2 linked regions of the Homo sapiens genome follow. The protein of the gene in region 2 interacts with the protein of the main gene of each other region in a pairwise test. Each region holds a gene or a part of one and is shown on either strand. Other genes may lie near its edges. The genes, in order: MTFR1L and ARMC1.

Region 1 (12,539 bases), on a different chromosome or scaffold from region 2:
CAATGGCACCGTGGTAGGCACCCCCACTCAGACCCCACAGGGCCCAGGCACCTCGGGGCCCCGGGAGCAACCAGCAGGAGGCGTGGATGTGCAGACTTCATCAGGCTTCGGGACTGTCCCTGCCACTTCCTGGCTGCAAAGCCTCAAGCTGGTCTCTTACCCAGTCTAAGCCTCCGTTGTCCCCGTGTAGAAACAGGAATCGTGATGCAGGTGTTGGTCATCGGGGGCTGCGCAGCAGTGAGCATAGTCCTGAGGCAGAGTCAGCGCCTCCCTAGAAACACAGCCTGGAAGGGAAGGCTCACCTTGGACCATGGCGGCCAGTCCTGGGATGGAAGGGGAGGGAGGAGCCAGGCCTTGTGACAGAGACCAGGAGAGGGCCCTGAGCCAAGATTCAAGACCCCACCTCTCCCTAAGGGCCCCTTACCTAGCACTCAGCAAGTCTTCTCACTGGGGCCTCACAGCAGCTTTGGGAGATGGATGGTCATGAATACCCATTTTATAAACAAGGAGGCCCAGAAAGTTGAGAGACTGGACAAATGTTGCAGTCAATTAAGTGCAGCTGGCTTTGAACCGAGGCCTGCCCTTGAGCCTCAGATCTCCAGCTCTTCTGATCAAAGCGACCCCTCATCCTTTAAGTCCCAAGGCATGGTTAGTGTGGGACCCAGGGCTGTAGGAGGGGGCCGGCTTCCTCAGGATCTTAGGATGGGAGCAGTTCAGGAGCAGGGGCTGTCACGGGAGAGGTGTCCAGTGAGGGTTTGGTGTAAAGGAAAGGGCACCAGGCGGAAGGCATCTGCTGTCCCAGGCGCAAGGGTGATGAGATGGTGTCGGGGAACTGGATGAGGCTGGGCCTGGTTGGGAGAACCAGGCCTCCCATTCATATGAATGTTGATTGAATGCTGATTCATTCATTTGTTCATCTACTGGGCACCTACTGTGTGCCAGGCACAAAGATAAAGACACAGCCCCGTGCTGAAGGAGCTCAGTCTCTGGAGCGAGAGGCCAAAGGAGAGGCCCATTGAATGTGAGGCTGCAGTGAGAGAAGGGAGCACGGAGTTCAGGATGGGAGTCCGGGGTCACAGGAACAGAGGAGAGGGGTCATTTCGGGGGGCGGGGGCAGAGGGCTAGTAGAAGAGGTGATGTTGGAAGGTGTTGGGTTTTCACTTGGTAGGCAAGGCAGGGAGGAGCCCCCTCGTCAGACACAGGGTGATGAGATGGTGTCGGGTGCTGGCGAGGGCTTACGGCAGCACTGCCTGCCCACCATCCACCTCAGACAAGGACAGTCAAGGCCTGATAGCATCCCTGCTTCTCCCCATAGAAGAGAGGGCACAGGGAGCCTGGGGGCCCCCCTCCGCCCCACTTGCCTCACCCGGCCCTTCTCCCAGGTCCATCACATCAATGCCAACTACTTCTTGGACATCACCTCCGTGAAGCCCGAGGAAATCGAGAGCAATCTCTTCAGCTTCTCATCCACCTTTGAAGACCCGTCCACGGCCACCTACATGCAGTTCCTGAAGGAGGGACTCCGGCGTGGCCTGCCCCTCCTCCAGCCCTAGAGTGCCTGGACGGGATCTGATGCACAGGCCCCCACGCCTCAGAGCCAGAGTGGTCCTCAGCCCATTTCAGACTGCAGATGCCGCCCACTCCCACCCCACTCCTAGGCTGCCTTGGAGGGTACAAGATCCACTGAGGGTGGCCACCACAGCCTTGGCTCCATGGTGGCGGGTAGACAAGGGATGCCTGGGCTGACTGGGCAGAGGAACCTCTAGCTCTGACTGTCACTCGGCTCTCCCTACCCATTTGGCTCTGGAAGCTGCTTGGCCCCCCCAGATCAGGGCCTGGGTGAACTCCCTGGACCTTTCCTAGCCAGCCGCACAGTCTAGGCCCTTGTGGGGTGAAGAATGGAGGGAGGAGCAGGCTAGGAAGACGGGGCCACCACCCTCTCCTTGCTTTCAGCCCTTCCCACAGGAAACATCAAGAAGCCCCAGCCAGGAGGGGCCAGGCTGCCAAGGCGGCTCCCCTGTTTATCTAGAGCCTTCGTTCCTGGCCATACCCCGGACTGCCCTCCTGTGCCTGATGTCCCCAGCTGGGGTCAGTCTCAACAGGAGCCAGTCTTCTGGAGCCTCTGGGCAGAACCCTCCATCAGAGTGGAAATCAGACGGGACCCCCTGCAGCTTCCCTGACCACGCCACTGACCAGCTATCTGGGGAAGTTTACTGTGAAGGGGTTTCTGCCTTTAGCAATGGGGTTCACTAAGGGGGTTCCCGAGGCCCAGGGCCAAGGCACTCCCACCGCCTACCTTAGCACAGGGTCTCTGCAGGACTGCGGGAGCCAGCGCTCCTGCCGCCCCTCTTGCCCCTCAGACCTTGCATCCACAGAAGCACAACCCAGCCAAACACCACAGCCTTCTCCAGAGCCGGCACTGTCCCGGCAACCAGGGGTGCCCCAGGCTAGCTCTTCTACCTCTGGGGCACCACGGACTCCCCTTGGCCACTCTTGGGACTTTGGTCCACGTCCTGAGCCACTGACCACGGCCAGTCTCTCTTTTTATATGTGCAGAAAAGTGTTTTTACACAAACTTTCTCATGGTTTGTAGGTATTTTTTTATAACCCCAGTGCTGAGGAGAAAGGAGGGGCAGTGGCTTCCCCGGCAGCAGCCCCATGATGGCTGAATCCGAAATCCTCGATGGGTCCAGCTTGATGTCTTTGCAGCTGCACCTATGGGAAGAAGTAGTCCTCTCTTCCTTCTCCTCTTCAGCTTTTTAAAAACAGTCCTCAGAGGATCCATGATCCCCAGCACTGTCCCATCCTCCACAAAGGCCCACAGGCATGCCTGTACTCTCTTTCATTAAGGTCTTGAAGTCAGGCTGCCCCCTCCCCAGCCCCCAGTTCTCTCCCCACCCCCTCACCCCACCCGGGGCTCACTCAGCCTGGCAGAGGAAGAAGGAAGGCAGACATCTCCGCAGCCACTCCTGGGCCTTTTATGTGCCGAGTTACCCCACTTGCCTTGGGCGTGTCCACTGAGCCTTCCCCAGCCAGTCTTGTTCTCAATTTTGTTTTGTTTTGTTTTGAGACGGAGTCTTGCTCTGTCACCCAGGCTGGAGTGCTATGGCTCGATCTTGGCTCACTGCAACCTCCACCTCCCAGGTTCAAGCAATTCTCTTGCCTCAGCCTCCCGAGTAGCTGGGATTACAGGTGCATGCCACCATGGCTGGCTAATTTTTGTATTTTTAGTAGAGATGGGGTTTCACCATATTGGTCAGGCTGATCTGGAACTTCTGACCTCAGGTGATCCACCTGCCTCAGCCTCCCAAAGTGCTGGGATTACAGGCGTGAGCAATCGTGCCCAGCCTTGTTCTTAATTTTGTATCATCCAGTCATCGCTAATATTACACGCACCTTCTCACTTAATCCTCACGACAAGCCTGTGAGGCAGATGCTCATTGTTCCCATCTTGATGAAACTTGAGTCTCAGGGAAGTGAAGTGACTTGCCCAGGGTCACTCAGGTAGAGTTGAGATTCAAACCCACATGTGGCTCCAAAGTCTGCATCTGGATTTGGGGGTGTTTTTTGGCATGGCACCCTCACCTCTCTCCCTGCCTGTTTTCCCCAAAGTGGAAAGGAAGGCCTTTCAAACCAGAGTGTCTCACTCCCCTCTGACCTCCAGACCAGATGGGGCATGAGCCAGCCAGCTCAGCCAGGCTCCCTGTGTCCTGGGAGGAAGTGTCCCCATCCCCCATGCCCCTTATGGGGAGGGAGGGCGTCTGATGCTCTCTCTCTGCCTCCCCCCCCATCCTGTCAGGCACAGGTGACGGGGGCAGCCCATGCGAGCCCTTCTCCTGCTGCTCTGGGAGGGCCAGTTCCACATTGAGCCAGCCTGGTCCCATGGAAAATGATGGCCTGGGCTTTCTGAGGCCTTATCTGATGCCTCTGCAGTTCATGTCCCCCACCAGGCCTCGAGGCTCAGGGTGGGAGAGGGCCCCGGGCTGCCCTGTCACTCCTCTAACACTTCCCTCCCCTGTCCCCAACATGCCCTGTAATAAAATTAGAGAAGACTAACTAGAGTGGTTCTAAGTGCTTTTCCTTTGAGTGGCATGTTGCTCAGCTCCGTCCTTCCATGGGGTGGCTCCCTCTTGGGGCAGAGTTGAGCTGGAATGCTTTCAGGTACTATCTTACCTATCGAAGGCTTGAGTGACTTGCCCAAAATAAGTTTTACGATAGAACAAGTGGTAGGACTTACTGTTTTGAGAATCTGGTGCTCTCTGTTGAGAGAGATCTGGGAGTTAAAATCATTGTCTTAAAAGCAGAGCCTGAGACAGGCATGAAGTGTTTTTTTGTTTGTTTGTTTTGTTTGTTTGGTGGGGCTGGGGGGGAGTGTACTTCCAGAAAAACCAGTAAAAGAAGGAAGGAAGCAGAAGAGGGAAAGGAAAAATGCTGAGCAGGAACAGTCTCAGCCCAGCCTTGGCCTGACCCACAGTGGAAGAGCTGTGGGGCATAAACCACACTGCAGAGCTGAACTGGCCTTTTGGACCTTTTATCAGTCATTGGCTTGGGAGGTGAAGGAAATTCCCAGGTAGGGAGCTCCGTTCTTCCTGCAAGGGGATCTGAGTGGGACACCAAATCAGCATCTACACCCAGGACAGACAGCCAGCGTGGACTTGCATGATCCGCCATCGCACAGGAGGGAAAGGTAATGATTAAAACACAATGTGCCATCCTGGGAAGAGGGCCAGACCTGGAAGTCAATCTTCAGCGTTTGAGATATGGTGGAGATCAGGGTGGACGACCTCTGAGGTCTCTAGCCAGGACCAGTCACATAATTTGCACAGCCCCGTGCAAAATGAAAACACAAGAACCCCTATTAGAAAATCATTTCAAGACGGCAACAGCAAAGTACTAAACCAAGTACAGGATTCTGAGCATGCGGCCCGTTGTGACTGCATGGGCTGTTCACCCATGAAACCAGCTCTGTCTCTGGCAGAGGGGACTGCAGGCTTTGGAACCAAGGAACTCCAGCCTGGGAGCCAGGCACAGCCCGAGGCTGTGCTGAAGGCAGAGAAGGAAATGTGACCCAGGAACTGCATGCCACAGACCAAGACAGTGAGGGCTGGAGCACAAAGAGGGAGTGGGTTAGTGAGCCTGGAAGGAATGTGGCTCTTCCCACAGAGCCTCTGGAGTCTTGTACATCAAGTACCCATCTAATAAGCAAACTCATTGAATATACCGTGTGTGTGTGTGTGTGTGTGTGTGTGTGTGTGTGTGTGTGTGAGAGAGAGAGAGAGAGGCTAAAATAGAAGAAAGCTGCAAAGTGCTGGAGGGCAGGAGTCAAGAGGAGAAAGAGGCCCATTCTGCGCATTCTTGCTGGAGAGAGGCTTTGCAAAGGGACCTGCCTGGGAACCAAGAACTGGGAAGGGGGCCAGGGTGAGGATTCTGAAGTTTGCCCTAGGGGTAGGAGCATATTTTAGGGGTCGAGCGACACACCCCTGGGCTTCCAGAAGTCGGATGGGGCTAAACGTGGAGAGCAACAAGCAGGGAGACGCGACGAATACCAGGCCGAGGGATCTCCAAACGCAGCCAACTCCTCCCGGGGACACAGACCCCGCGGGGGCACGGTCTCGATGGAGGGGAGTGTGCTCCGCGGTATCGGAGCCTACAGCCGCCAGCGCCTCGCCCACTCGGGGGCCGCGCTCCCCTCGCCACCGAGCTGGACCCGCCTCCTGAGGGTGCGCGGAGGTGCGCCTCGGTGCGCAGCTGCGGAGGATCGCTTCCGGGGGGCGGGTCAGCGGAAGTGAGGGCGGTTGAGGCTGGGCGGCCCAAGGTGGAAGGAGGGGCCGTGAGGTGAGAGAGTCCGGGAGCCCGAGCTTGAGGTGAGAAAGGTTCTAGGGAGGCGCGGAGGCGGGAGCGCGACCTTCCAGCCCGTTAGTAGACTGGGTCTACGTGCCGGGCGCTGTGCGGAGCCCGCAGCTCCTGTTCCCGCGCGAGTTCTCGCGGGAGCCGCAGCTGTCCGTCTCACTTGGCCCGGGGGAAACTGAGTCCCCGAAGGGTAGTTGCTCGTCGGAGTTCCCCAGCAAACAGTGACCAAGCCAGACCTCAGGCTTCTAGTTTCGGCTTCGCTGCTTGACGGGCCGGGCTGCCCCGCCGCGCATTCTGAGACCTGGCCGCGGCTCGGAGGCTTCCGCGCACTCGGGTCCGGGTCCTGTGGGTCCAAGGGCCGCTGGGCAGGCGGCGAGCACTTGGCCGACCTTGGCCCAGGTCGGGTCGTCTGCCGCGGGGGAGGGGCGACTCGCCCTGGCGGGTCCCCGCGGGGAGAGGGTCCGCGCGGGTCTCCGGCCACTGCTGCGCGCGGCAAAGTTTCACTGAGCGCGGCGGCCTCCGTGGGGGCCCCCGGGACCAGGGGTGCTGAGCAGGGCCCTGCGCTGGAGGAGCTCCCGTTCTCCTGAGGGGACGCCTGTCAGCAGACAGCAACTGCAGCCTCCGGAGGGCTGCGGGGCGCAGAGGTGACAAGACCCACCGGTGCTGCCGGCGAACCGGGGGAAGATCTTCTAGCCAGTGACACTTGGGGGCGGGGGTGACAGCTGAGTTGGTGTTCCCCTTCATTCGTTTAGTTCAGCGCGTTGAAGCGCTCACTGTGTCCTAGGCAGACACCGTGCTGTGCGCGGGGATCACAGTTATCTAGTTCCTCTCGCGAGGACTCCGAGGGACAGGCAGGGTGCTGCGGAGCGCACAGGAAAGGACCTGACCCTGTCGCAGGGAAGGAAGGTGATGCTTAAGCTGAGCTCTGAGGAATGATGAAGAATGAGCTCGGCGAAGGGGGTGCTGGTGTTTGATGCAGGGCTCAGAGGTGGGCCCAGTGTTGGGGGTTGAGGGCCAGTGTGGCTGGAGGGCAAGGGGGAGAGCAGGAGGGCTGGCTGCGAAGCGTGCAGGCCTTGGTGCTCAGTGAATGTGGTCTAGAGACGGCAGAGAAAGATGGGTTTGGGACTGATTGTGGATTTTATCCTGTGTTGGCTCTAGTAAGCCAGTTTTAAACGGATGAGCGATGTGATTAACTGTGTTTGGGAAGGATTCCTCTGGCTGTGTGTGAGGGTTAGGCCCGGCTGGGTCTTTGGAGGTAAGGTCGGAGAGGAAGTGGCAGTAAGCACCGTTAGTGCAATTTGTGGCCGACACGGACATTCAGCACAGAGCCTGGCACACAGAGGGACTCTGATAATAAAGGCTTGAACTGAGCCGAGAAGATGGAGCCCACGCAGGAGGTGGCAGGACCTGGACCAGGCTTTGGGTGCTTTGCACTGGCATGACCACTGAGTGACCTTAGACAAGTGCCTTCCCCTGTCCAACTTCCTTTCCCCATGTGTATCGTGAAGTGAATGACACCTCGTCTCCCAAGGGTAGAAGAGGGGACCCTCCACAGGAGGTCTCCAGAAAGAGCTGCTTTGTCAGTCTAGTCTATCTCCCATTCAGAGCCTGTCCAGGGCTCCCCAGTGACCCGGACCTCATGACTTGCCCCCTACTTTTGTAGCTTTATCATGCTCTGCTCCTCTTTCCATGTCCTTCACCTTCTTGTGCTGGACCTGTGCTCTTGCTGTTTTGTCTTCATTTCCTACTCCCTCGCAACTTACTACAGGGCACTAGGGCCAGAGCTCTGACCTCATCTGGCCACCTGCCTAATGCTACTCAGCCTTTGCTAGAAGTATGTATTCATGTCCTATCACTCTGCTGGACAGCGAGTTCCTTGAGAGCATGACTGTGTCTTACTCCTTCCATAGCCCCTACGGTGCCCAGCACAAGGCCTGGCACAAGTGGGTACTGTTGGTGTTTGATGAACAAGTGAATGAACGAGCACACTGATTGCATCTGCTCACCATGCAAGGACTGCTGTGAAGAGCAGTCAGATGTCACCTCACCCATCTGTGTCATGTTTTAACAGTTCATTAAGCACTCAACCCCATTTCACTCATTGACCCTTAAGGTAGCCTCCAGTGGCAGCTTTTCCTGTCTCCTTTTTCCAGATGGAAAAACCAACATTCAGAAAAGTTAAATAACTTGCCTGTAGCTACAAAGCCAGAAGGTGGCTGAGCCAGGATAAACTTTTTTGGCTCTTTTTCTCTGTAGCTCATGAGACTGAGATTGGCATGAGCTGGTGTTCGTTCTCCTATTTTCTCTGATCTCTCCCTTTGCAAGGGCCCAGCAGTGCTTTTACATCTCATCTTCAAGAATGAATCCTGGGCTTGGATAGTACTTATAATTTGGCTAGATGAGCTTTGTAGCTACCAAGGATTCTATTTGCATCTTTAGAAGTTTTGCCTCAAGAAACCTGAGAGCCCAGGAAGGCTCTTGGGTTGGCCAAGCTCACTAGGCAAATCTTTTTTTTTTTTTTTTTTTTTTGAGACGGAGTCTCGCTCTGTCACCCAGGTTGGAGTGCAGTGGCGTGATCTCGGCTCACTGCAAGCTCTGCCTCCTGGGTTCACGCCATTCTCCTGCCTCAGCCTCCCAAGTAGCTGGTACTACAGGTGCCCGCCACCACACCTGGCTAATTTTTTGTATTTTTAGTAGAGACAGGGCTTCACTGTGTTAGCCAGGATGGTCTCGCTCTCCTGACCTCGTGATCCGCCCACCTCGGCCTCCCAAAGTGCTGGGATTACAGATGTGAGCCACTGCGCCTGGCCGCAGATCTTTAACAGAACCTTTAAGAGTCTGGACTTAGAGCTAAGTGTTGGGTGAGGGCAGCCTCTTGGGCTGGTTTTCTCCCCTGTGAAGTCATGGCTCTGCAGGGCCTGGTTTTTTGGGGCTTGTGTGGTGACCATTAAATCCCCACTGTGGGGGGTTGTTTCACAAGAGGGAAATCTGGTGCTCCTCCAGATGGCCTGATATGAAGGAGTCACGCCTCCCGCCTCCCGGAGCTGCCCAGTGGCTGCCTTGTCCTTCAAGTGCAGGAGCTGGTTCAAATGTCAGGAATGGAAGCCACTGTGGTAAGGGGCATTCCCAGGGCAGGGGTATGGTGGGGAAGGTTGGGTGCTGGGCCTGCTGAAGTACTGTAAAAGGTTCTGAGACTCTCCAGTTGAGCACTCCTTTCTCCAGAGGCCTGGAATTGGAGCAAGGCCACCGTTTCACTCCCTCCCCCTAAGAAGAACCAACTATGATCCTGGGGCACTTCAGGAGTCAGTGTATGTCTGCCTTTCTGTACAGAGGACGGGAAGGAAAGCCTGGATAATCTCTACACTCAGCTACTTCCTCTCCCCTTCCCTGACCCTCCCAACATTGACTGCCTTAGCAGCAGCAGGTATTCCCTTGGGTGGCTGGCCAGGGTGTAGGCTGGCAACTGGGGAACCTGCCCTCACTATAATTGAGAGTTGACTTGCCCCTAGAGAGTGCCCTGTCCCTAGGTTTGTGGAATTCAGTCTCCACAAACCTAGAGAGGAGAGGACAAGGACAGTAGTTGGATTCATTCTCTGGGGTTGTAGCTGTCTCCGTCTCTTTGCTCCAGACCATCCCAATCTGGCAAAACAAGCCACATGGGGCTGCTCGAAGTGTAGTAAGAAGAATTGGGACCAACCTACCCTTGAAGCCGTGTGCCCGGGCGTCCTTTGAGGTGAGTATGTTGGAAGGGCAGGAGAGTAGAGGCTCAGACAGTGCTGCTTCTGTGCCCCAAACCCCTTGGTACTGCCCAAGTAGGTTGTTTCCTGGTCACTTTTCATTCTGTTATGAAATATTTGTTAAATGCTTATAAGATATCCTGGTCACTGTGTCCTCCTGAGTGCATACAAACCTGTGACCACAAGGAACCTGACAGGTCCCCCACATGGGACACTGACTATTGTGATTTTTGAGTTGAACTCTGCTTTTCTTCACCAGCCCTAAGAATTGACCATGTAGCCAGTATTTTTATTTTATTATTTTTTGAGATGAGGTCTCCCTATGTTGCCCAGGCTAGGTCTTAAACTCCTGGGCTCAAGCAGTCCTCCTGCCTCAGCCTCCTATGTAGCTGGGATTACAGGCACAAGCCACCATGCCCAGCTCCACTATTTTTAGTGTTTCTCTGAGGCCATAATTCCTCAGCCTTCTCTTTTTGGCCAATCTGGGCATCCTTTACTGGGGTGCTTTGGTCTTACCTCTGTGTCTAGGGATCCTTTAGCACCCACTCAGCAGCAGAGATTCCTACCTGGCCCAGGTCTCTTGAGACCCCTTCTGTGGTAGAAAGCTAAGTAGCATTTATTAGTCCCAGCTGCCTCCCTCTAGGAACTAAATGGTTAAGCACCAGCCCCAAACTATATGGTTCAGATGTGTGCATTTGGAGAGCTGGGATACAAAAGAAATACTTGTGCTTTCTACCCACACAGAGGAGATAGAAATATGTGCATGAAAGGATGTGGGCCCAGGTAGAAACAGAAATGAAGGAGCCAAATCTGTATAAAAGATGCTAAGAAGCAGAGTCTGTAGGAACTGGATCTGGAATTAGAAGAGGTGTCAGGGTTGGTATTAGGGTCAGGAATGGAGTTGGAAGTGTCGCAGGGGTAGGGGGCAGGAAAAGCTGTCCCAGTATTCAGATTGCCAGCTATCCAGAATTGTCTAAAGATCCTGGGCAGGAACTGGTCCTAACTTGCCTCAGAAGCATCAGAAAAAAAAAAGGGAGACAGCTAGGGAGTGTGGCTCACTGCATAGAGGCCGTCCCCACACTTGGCTATACCCTCTTCAGTTCTTTGGCCAGATGCTGGGCAGAGACAATCAAGGGCACAGGCTCTCACAGAGCAGGAATGTATGTGAGCAGTATTGGTAATACTAGATAACATTTACTGAGCACATACTATGTGTCAGGCACTGTGCTGTACTTTATATTTGTTTACTCATTTAATTGCCAAGAGCAAAGGAGCATTCAGGGCTAATCAGGAAAACAAATGGAGGCTTCCCCCAAATGCCCTATTTTAGCACTAGTTCCTGGGTCACTGGAAGTTCTTCTCTGTGTGACCTTGGAGTATCACTTAACTCCTGTGAGTCCCAGGTTTCCTATCTAAATGCAGGAGCGATCAATCCTGGATCCATCTACCATACCAAATAATTTGTAGCAGAAACAGTTGAATCTTACTTGTGTGTAAATATGCATTTATTATTATTATTAAATTACCTTAAATATTATTTAAGGGACTCTTACCAATTTATTTTGAAAATTTAAGCATATGAAAATATTAAAATTATGAAAAGTAAAAGGAAAATAAATTACCTATAATTACATAGTAATAATACAATAACTATTAATGTCTTAGTGTAGTCCTCTTTTTCTAGATGGATGTTTTTTACTTTGTTGTAATCACAGTCAACATGACTGAATCCTAATTTTTCACTTTACTCAACATCTCTAGGTTGAGGAGCTATTTTAAGAAATCCTATTATGGTTCCTTTTGTATAATCATTTATTTTTATTTAAATCTAAATATATTCAAATTTTCAGGTTTGTTTAAAACAGCATTGCTGTAACAATGTAGATCTCAATTAGCTATACAGGATTATAAAAAGCTAGTCAGGAAAAATTTCCTATTGCTGTAACAGGTTGTGGATGACCTTGTACTTGTATTTTCACCAGAGGGCACAGTGGTTTTAGACAGTTGCCATCTCTACTAAAAGGTGACTCAGGCCTTTTCCACTGAAGACACAGAACTGTTTGTAATCCCATAGACTCTCATGTGTCTTGCCTGTTTTTGTTTTTGAATGTGGCTCTGTTGTCCACGCTAGAGTACAGTGGTGCAATCTCAGCTCACTGCAACCTCTGCCTCCCAGGTTCAAGCCATCTTCCCACCTCAGTCTCCTGAATAGCTGGGACTACAGGCGTATACCACCATACCCAGATAATTTTTGTATTTTTTGGTAGAGGCAGGGTTTTGCCATGTTGCCCAGGCTGATCTCAAACTCTTGGTCTCAAGCATTCTGCCTGCCTCGGCCTCCCAAATGCTGGGATTACAGGTGTGAGCCACCATGCCTGACTGTCATCTGGCCTCTGTTCAATGTTTTCGACCAGGAACCTTCTTCTGCCCCCTCTAGGAAGCCTTCCTGACACCCAGTGCCGGATTAGGTACCCCTCCTGTGTATTCTGCAGTTTCTGATTGGCTCATCATGGCATCTGTAAATGTTGATGACTTTTGCTTCTCCATAGACCCTGCCCAACATCTCTGACCTGTGTTTGAGAGATGTGCCCCCAGTCCCTACCCTGGCTGACATCGCCTGGATTGCTGCGGATGAAGAGGAGACATATGCCCGGGTCAGGTAGTTGAGGCAGTAGCTGGTCTGCTAAGGAATGGAGAACTTCCCAGAAGAGGTGGCAGGCAGCAAGGAGAGAGGAATGAGAACTGTGGGCTCAGAGAGGAGCAGAACCTTACTATACTACTCTCACAGAAGTGGGGGAAGGAACCTTAGGAGCACAGTGGCCTGCTGTCTCTAACTGATCTACTTGGTTTTCCCTGGTCCAGGAGTGATACGCGCCCCCTGAGGCACACCTGGAAACCCAGCCCTCTGATTGTCATGCAGCGCAATGCCTCTGTTCCCAACCTGCGTGGGTC
Region 2 (7,653 bases):
ACCTTGATATTCTTGATGATAACAAGTTACTCTGACATCCATTTCTAACTACCACATTGCCTGAATTTTTGGGGGGGAACAGGGTCTCACTCTGTCACCCAGGCTGGAGTGGCGTGGTACGATTTCGGCTTATCACAACCTCTGCCTCTCAGGTTCAAGCAATTCTCCTGCCTCAACCTCCCAAGTAGCTGGGACTACAGGTGCCTGCCACCATGCCCGGCTAATTTTTTATTTTTAGTAGAGACGGGGTTTCGCCGTGTTGGCCAGGCTGGTCTTGAACTCCTGACCTCAGGTGACCCACCCTCCTCGGCCTCCCAAAGTGCTGGGATTACAGGCGTGAGCCACCACGCCTGGCCATTGCTTGAATTCTGTTAAATGATCAATATTTCTGTGGATTGCAGCGTTCACAAAGCAGATTTTATGAGATAGCAATAGAACAGTTAGGAAACTGAAAACAGATAAACGAAAGTTACAACTCTAACCCCAATCATGTATTAGATACATATTATGTTTCTGTGTTAATTTCATCAACTTCACACACTCAAGCTGTTTGATAAAAATGTCCGCCTTTGCTGGGTGCAGTAACTCAGGAGGCTGAGGCAGGAGACTGGTTGAGGCCAGAGTTCAAGTCTACAGTGTGCTATGATCTTGCCTGTGAACAGCCACTTTACTACAGCATGGACAACATAGCAAGACCCTGTCTCTTAAAAAAAAAAAAAAAAAGTCTATCTTCATAGGTTGGAAAAAATGATTTTAAATGAATATTTCAGGATTCAGTCTATCCTACCCACTATATGCCCAATTTGGCAAAGTGCAAAATAATTTTTATTTTATTTTTAAGATAGGGTCTCGCTCTGTTGCCCAGGCTGGATGGCAGTGGCAGAGCCACTAAAACTTTATGCTGCTGTATAAATGCATCTCTTTTAAACATGGCTATGAACATATGAATAAAATGCTAAGCTCTAAAACTCTGTAAGATGGCCAGGTACCATGGCTCAGGCCGGTAATCCAAGCACTTTGGGAGGCCCAGGGGGGTGGATCTCTTGAGCCTAGAAGTTCAAGACCAGCCTGGGCAACATGGCAAAACCCCATCTCTACTAAAAATACAAAAGCTGAGGTGGGAGGATCACCTGAGCCTGGGAGCTCGACAGAGTGACAGCTCATCTCAAAATAATAATAATAATAATAAAATTTGGGAGGCCGAGGCGAGCGGATTACGAGGTCAGGTGATTGAGACCATCCTGGCTCACACAGTAAAACCCCGTCTCTACTAAAAATACAAAATATTAGCCAGGCGTGGTGGGGGGCACCTGTAGTCCCAGCTACTCGGGAGGCTGGGTCAGGAGAATGGCGTGAAACCGGGAGGCGGAACTTGCAGTGAGCCGAGATTGTGCCACTGCACTCCAGCCTGGGCAACAGAGCGAGATACCGTCTCAAAATAATAATAATAGTAATAATAAAATAAAACTCTACAAGACGCCGGGCACAGTGGCTCACGCCTGTAATCCCAGCACTTCGGGAGGCCAAGGCCTCTGGTACTCCAGGGGTTGAGGCAGGAGAATCGCTTGAACCCGGGAGGCGGAGGTTGCAGTGAGCCGGGATCGCATCACTGAACTCCAGCCTGAGCGACAGAGCGATACTCCGTCTCAAAAAAAAAAATAAAAAATAAAGACCATAGCCTCACTAACAAATGATGAAAATGTGAAAAGACTTTTTATACCTTTACTTTCTCTTGTTTAGTTCAACTTGGACAAACAAATCATTCTATGACAAAGAATACTTCTCATCGTTTAATGAGCACTCTGGTCAGTTAAAGGTTCCTGTTAAAAAGCAAATGCTGATTCAGTAGGTGGGAGAGTCTGAGATTCCGCATTTCCAACAAGCTTCCAGGTGAGGCCTATGCTACTTGTCACACTCTGAGAAGCAAGCAGTTAGAAGATACATGTGAGACACCTGTAATTAGGCAGATGCCTGCAAGATTTTTCCTTCTCGTACAGTCAAGATTCACCATTCAATTCAAAGATTTAATTCTCACATGCCAAGAGATGCAGAGGGAATACGTTTAACCTAAATCCTTATTCAGTTAGGTGGGCTTTGATAAAAATAACATAAGCATTGATATTAAATCTGACTTTCCCCTTACTCGAAGAGTTAACTGTAACTTTGAGAAGTTAAGTTCTTAGAGCCTCAGTTATCTCACATAACAATCCTCAGCGGTTATCAGATTAAAGTAAGAACGCGAAATGGTAAAATCAAACACCAGCAATTACCAAACCAGAATACTACTTGCTCATGTGGGGACATCTGTCCTGCCAGGTGTTGGAGGTACCTTCTGCACTGCCCTGACACTTCAGTGCACTAAGTATCACGAAAGGAGTTGCTAACTGCACGAATACCTACCCCCGCCCTCCCAAAACACAGTCTTAAATATAAAAATGGGAACACTGGTCTCTCTTGAATTAAGCCTAACACAACTATGTCTTTCCGCTCTTAGGAGACACGCAGGTGCACAAAACTAACAGAAAGTTACCAAAGAATAACCTGGAGAGATGAAAAGATGAGATGACACCCATTAATAATACTGGGGTTAGTAAAAGTCAGATGTGAGGGGGGACAAAGAAGAAATGAGCAAAGCTAACAGATTCACGGGACACGTGGGGGTAGAGCGTGCTAAAGCGCCTCACTGGGACCCACTACTGGATCTGACAAGAGGCAGGCGGGGCGCCCCTCCCAGGCGGATTCGCTGCCTCGGTACAGGGGCCGCTTCCCGCGGCCTTCCCGGCTCCACTGCTTTGTCTGCCGCCCGTGGACCCCACATACCGCTCCAGAGCTTTAGGAGTCCAGAGCCTGCCACACCATCAGGGCCACACCTACGGATGAGGTAGAGACCCAGGCGGCGCGGAGCGAGCCCTTCGGTTCGCAGCCCCGGCCGCGGCGATCGCAAGCAACCGGACTAACTCAGGGAGCCAAAGAGCGAAGGCGCTGGCGGGCAAAGGCTCTGCAGACTCTTCCCAGGTGACCTGACGCCTCTGTCGCTTATGCCCTCCTATTGGCTGATAATGAGTCCAACGTGAGGATAAAGTATCCAATCAGTGAAGGTCTTTTTAGAGTGAAGCGCTCATAGGTGGTTTAGGGAAATACACTAAGAGTCAAGGGACTGATCCAATGAGGACCCAGGAACACTATATTGGCCCTAACTACTCGCCGTCCACCAAGCCCTAACCGAAGAAATTTGATTCCGGCTGGGAAACTGTCACACCTTCACAACCTCAATACCCAGCTTTGTGGGGCCAGCAGGACTTCTCCGGTCCTGCATTCGGTAATTCAAATTGAGTATTTCTTTAGCAACTCTTGCAATTCTAATAAAGGCAATACCTAATATTTTATTCGCTTCTGTGAGTCTTAATTCATAAATTTTTTTTGTTTTGTGTTTTACTGTGGACGTTAGCACTACATTAGGCGTTCCTTGGATTTTCGTTTATTTCTTCTTGGTGTCCACTGTCTCCCTAGCAGCTTGAAAGACGCAAAGTACAGTTTTCGTTTAAGTAGCAATTTATTTTGGGGAAGAGGTTTTTTTTTTTTTCTTGTAAGGAATTTATTATCACAATCTTCTCAAATTCATATTTTAAAATATCTTCTATGTAGTTTATCAAAGTAAGGATTTATATACTTGTTTTATGGATGGCAATCACTTGAAGTTTTTGTTTAGGCATAGATTTTATTTTTTTTTTAATTTCTTTAAATACAAACCTACTCTTAACCCGCAGGCAGATCTTTGAGAATAATGTATCCATTGCAGTCAATAACCCCAATAAACAGATTCTGGATTCTCTCCATAACAGTTTGATTCGGCCACGTAGCTCATGTATTAAAGTCAGAAGGAATATGAGAGGCCTCTAATAGGAAAAGAGTGTGGATAACAATAAATATCCCAGATTGTATTCAATGCTAATATCTCCTATACTTCTTGAATTTAAAAACCAAGCAGCTACTTCTTGAATTTCTTTCCGTTCCCTTGTTCTCGGTTATCCTCTTGCTTCCAATGAACTCAAAATAGGAGCAAAATAAGCTAAGTAGAAAACAAATAGGCCGGGTGCGGTGGCTCACGCGTGTAATCCCAGCACTTTGGGAGGCCGAGGTGGGCGGATCACTTGAGGTCAGGATTTCGACACCAGCTTGGCCAACATGGTGAAACTCTGTCTCTACTAAAAACCAACCAACAAACAAACAAAACTAACCAGGCGTCGTTGCGGGCGCCTGTAATCCCAGCTACTTGGGAGGCTGAGGCAGGAGAATCGATTGAACCTGGGAGGCTGAGATTGCAGTTAGCCGAGATCACGCCACTGCACTCCAGCGTGGGCAACAGAGCGAGACGGTCTAAAAAAAAAAAAAAAAAAAGTCCAAAGGGCACAGCCAGGTTAAACATAACCCATTTGGTTGAGTTACTTTCTTCAGTATAGTTATTAAAAACAACTAAAAAAAAATCCCAGGAAATTAAACTTGCTATTTTTGTTAACGTTAATATATTAGGAAGGCAGGTACGGGGGCTCACGCCTGTAATCCCAGCACTTTGGGAGGCCGAGGTGGGTGGATCACCTGAGTTCAGGAGTTCGAGACTAGCCTGGCCAACATGGTGAAACCCCGTCTCTACTTTTTTTTTTTTTTTTTTTTTGAGACAGAATTTCTATCTTCCTGCCCAGGCTGGAGTACAATGGCGCAATCTCGGCTCACCGCAACCTCCGCCTCCCTAATTACAGGCATGCGCCACCACGCCCGGCTAATTTTTGTATTTTTAGTAGAGACGGAGTTTCTCCATGTTGGTCAGGCTGGCCTCTATCTCCTGACCTCAGGTGATCCGCCCGCCTCGGCCTCCCAAAGTGCTGGGGTTACAGGCGTGAGCCACCGCGCCCGGTCAGCCGTCCCTACTAAAAATACAAAAAATTAGCCTGGCGTGGTGGCGGGCGCCTGTAGTCCCAGCTACTCCGGAGGCTGAGGCAGGGGAATTGCTTGAACCCATGAGGCGGAGGTTCTAAGCCGAGGTCGTGCCACTGCACTCCAGTCTGGGAGACAGAGCGAGTCTCCGTCTCAAAATAAATAAATAAATAAATACTAAATATAATCATGCTTCTGCCATTATTGAGAAAAGTAATTCTTCCTGCACACTGCCATTACAGAATAGATGACTGCTATTAAGAAGCAGGGGGTGTGTTCACAAAAAAATAATTACCAGTTTCCTAAGCACCTATGGATTATAAGCCTTAGGGAGGTATTTAAAGATTTTAATAATCTGTATTCCCATATTAAAATGTCTAAACTTGGCCGGGCGTGGTGGCTCAAGCCTGTAATCCCAACACTTTGGGAGGCCGAGGCGGGCGGATCACAAGATCAGGAGATGGAGACCATCCTGGCTAACACGGTGAAACCCCGTCTCTACTAAAAATACAAAAAAAAAAAAAAATTAGCCGGTCGTGGTAGCAGGCGCCTGTAGTCCCAGCTGGAGGCTGAGGCAGGAGAATGGCGTGAACCCGGGAGGCGGAGCTTGCAGTGAACCGAGATCGCACCACTGCACTCCAGCCTGGGCGACAGAGCGAGACTCCGTCTCAAAAAAATAAAAAATGTCTAAGCTTGACACCAGTGAAGTTATACTACCTCCCATTGTGAGTCATTGCTTGTTCTTAGCCTCAGGTATCTTCCCACGGGACACTGGAATGTCGTTTCTCAGTAGCTGTGTTGCTTAAGACATGATTCAGATACTGGCAGTTTCATTCATTTAATTATTTAACAACCGGTTTTTGAACGCATACAATGTGCCATAGACAATCTTGACTATGGATTCAAAGGTAAGGAAAATCACAATCCCTGCCCTCAAGCAGCTCATGGTCTAAAGAGCTCAAGAAACAGTGGATTTCAAAACTTTTTGATCAGGCAACACTTTCAGCTTTATATATATGTATTCGAGTACATAGCTCTGACATATTTATATGTATTTATTCCTAAATTCTATACATGTACTATCAAATTAATATGTAGTTTTGAAAATGTCAAAGTAGAAATTTTTAAAGAAAGAGAAATATTTATAAATTGAAGCTCTCACTACCCATCCAGATGAAAATAAAATTGGATCCATATATTACATCATTTACCAAAAAAATAAATTCCAGGTGTATTAAAAACTCAAACCTTGAAGACTACATATATGACCTAGAAGCAGAGGGAAACCTTGAACAAAACTGGAAACCCAAAAGTTAAACAAGAAAAAAAATGGATACATTGGACTTGTTTTAAAAAGCAGCTGGCCAGGCGTGGCGGCTCACACCTGTAATTCCAGCACTTTGGGAGGCCGAGGTGGGTGGATCACTTGAGGTCAGGAGTTCCAGACAAGCCTGGCCGACAATGGCCAAACCCCGTCTCTGCTAAAAATACAAAAATTAGCCAGGCATGGTGGCACACGCCTGCAGTCCCAGCTACTTGGGAGGCTGAGGCAGGAGAATCACTTGAACCCGGGAGGCAGAGGTTGCAGTGAGCAGAGATCACACCATCGCACTCCAGCCTGGGTAGCAGAGCGAGACTCTGTCTCAAAAAAAGAAAAACAGCTCTATAGGTCAGGGTCAATCCCAAGAGCTGGTTTATAGAAAAGAATACCACAATCTCTGGAAAGTGGTGATCCTTTAACCTATTTGGATATAGATTTTTTTTTTTCTGGTCACTATGCACTGATCTAAGAAGAATTAAACTGTTTCAAGACTCAGAACAACCAAATATGCCCCAAAGTCTATGACTGAAACAAAATAGCTCAACAATTTTTCATTGGGCACCATGGTAAAAACATTCATTCAAATTGAGATTTAGATAATAAATGCAGATTAAAATGTTATCTTTTCCCAACAATATGTGCTTTTTTTTTTTCTTCTTTGAGATGGAGTCTTGCTCTGTCGCCCAGGCTGGAGTGCACTGGAGTGCAGTGGTGTGATCACGGCTTACTGCAACCTCTGCATTCTGGATTCAAGTGATTCTACTGCCTCAGCCTCCCGAGTAGCTGGGATTACGGCATGCACCACCACACCTGGCTACTTTTTACATTTTCAATAGGAATGGGGTTTCACCATATTGGCCAAGCTGGTCTCAAACTCCTGACCTCAGGTGATCTGCCCGCCTCGGCCTCCCAAAGTGCTGGGATTTTACAGGCGTGAGCCACCTCGCCCAGCCCAATATGTGCTTTTATTAGTAATTAAAGGAGCTTTGAAGTCAATGGGCACTGCATGCATCACTGACTCTTGCCTCAGGTGAGATGAAGTTGGCCCACTAACTGGTCTTGACCAGCTCTCCTGTAGCCCAGCCTCTCCCAGACACATCTAGCCTCACTGTGTCTCAAAGCACCCTTCAGAAGGGCACTTCACCGTCCTACCCAATAATCTTTTACCATCCATTCCTATATTCTAATGCAGAACCTCCTGAAGCTTATTTCAGTGTGTTACATTTTCTCCAGGGGGCAATTAGAGCTGGGGAAAGAAAAAACAGAACTAGAGGAAAAGGGTCTCAACTTCCAGGAAAGATCCTTTGTAAGCTTTGCAGATTATTCAACCTGTCTCAACAAATGGGGCTGTCATTAAGCCTTATATGAGAAACAGGCTGACATAGACATTGGTCTGTTCC

What was found.
Region 1: the proteins of ARMC1 (region 2) and MTFR1L interact in binary tests that used the Homo sapiens proteins (3 or more experiments, as listed by UniProt).

Annotation. Positions count from the first base shown.
Region 1 is NC_000001.11:25,814,166-25,826,704, forward strand, and holds the start of MTFR1L (mitochondrial fission regulator 1-like), read left to right. Parts: upstream 1-5,788; 5' UTR 5,789-5,864; exon of another isoform or gene 5,865-8,853; 5' UTR 8,854-8,939; coding exon 8,940-8,963; exon of another isoform or gene 8,964-9,441; intron 9,442-9,478; coding exon 9,479-9,583; intron 9,584-12,136; coding exon 12,137-12,246; intron 12,247-12,449; coding exon 12,450-12,539. UniProt on the Homo sapiens protein: Mitochondrial protein required for adaptation of miochondrial dynamics to metabolic changes. Regulates mitochondrial morphology at steady state and mediates AMPK-dependent stress-induced mitochondrial fragmentation via the control of OPA1 levels.
Region 2 is NC_000008.11:65,631,178-65,638,830, forward strand, and holds the start of ARMC1 (armadillo repeat-containing protein 1), read right to left. Parts: upstream 3,001-7,653; 5' UTR 2,821-3,000; intron 2,749-2,820; exon of another isoform or gene 1,721-2,748; intron 1-1,720.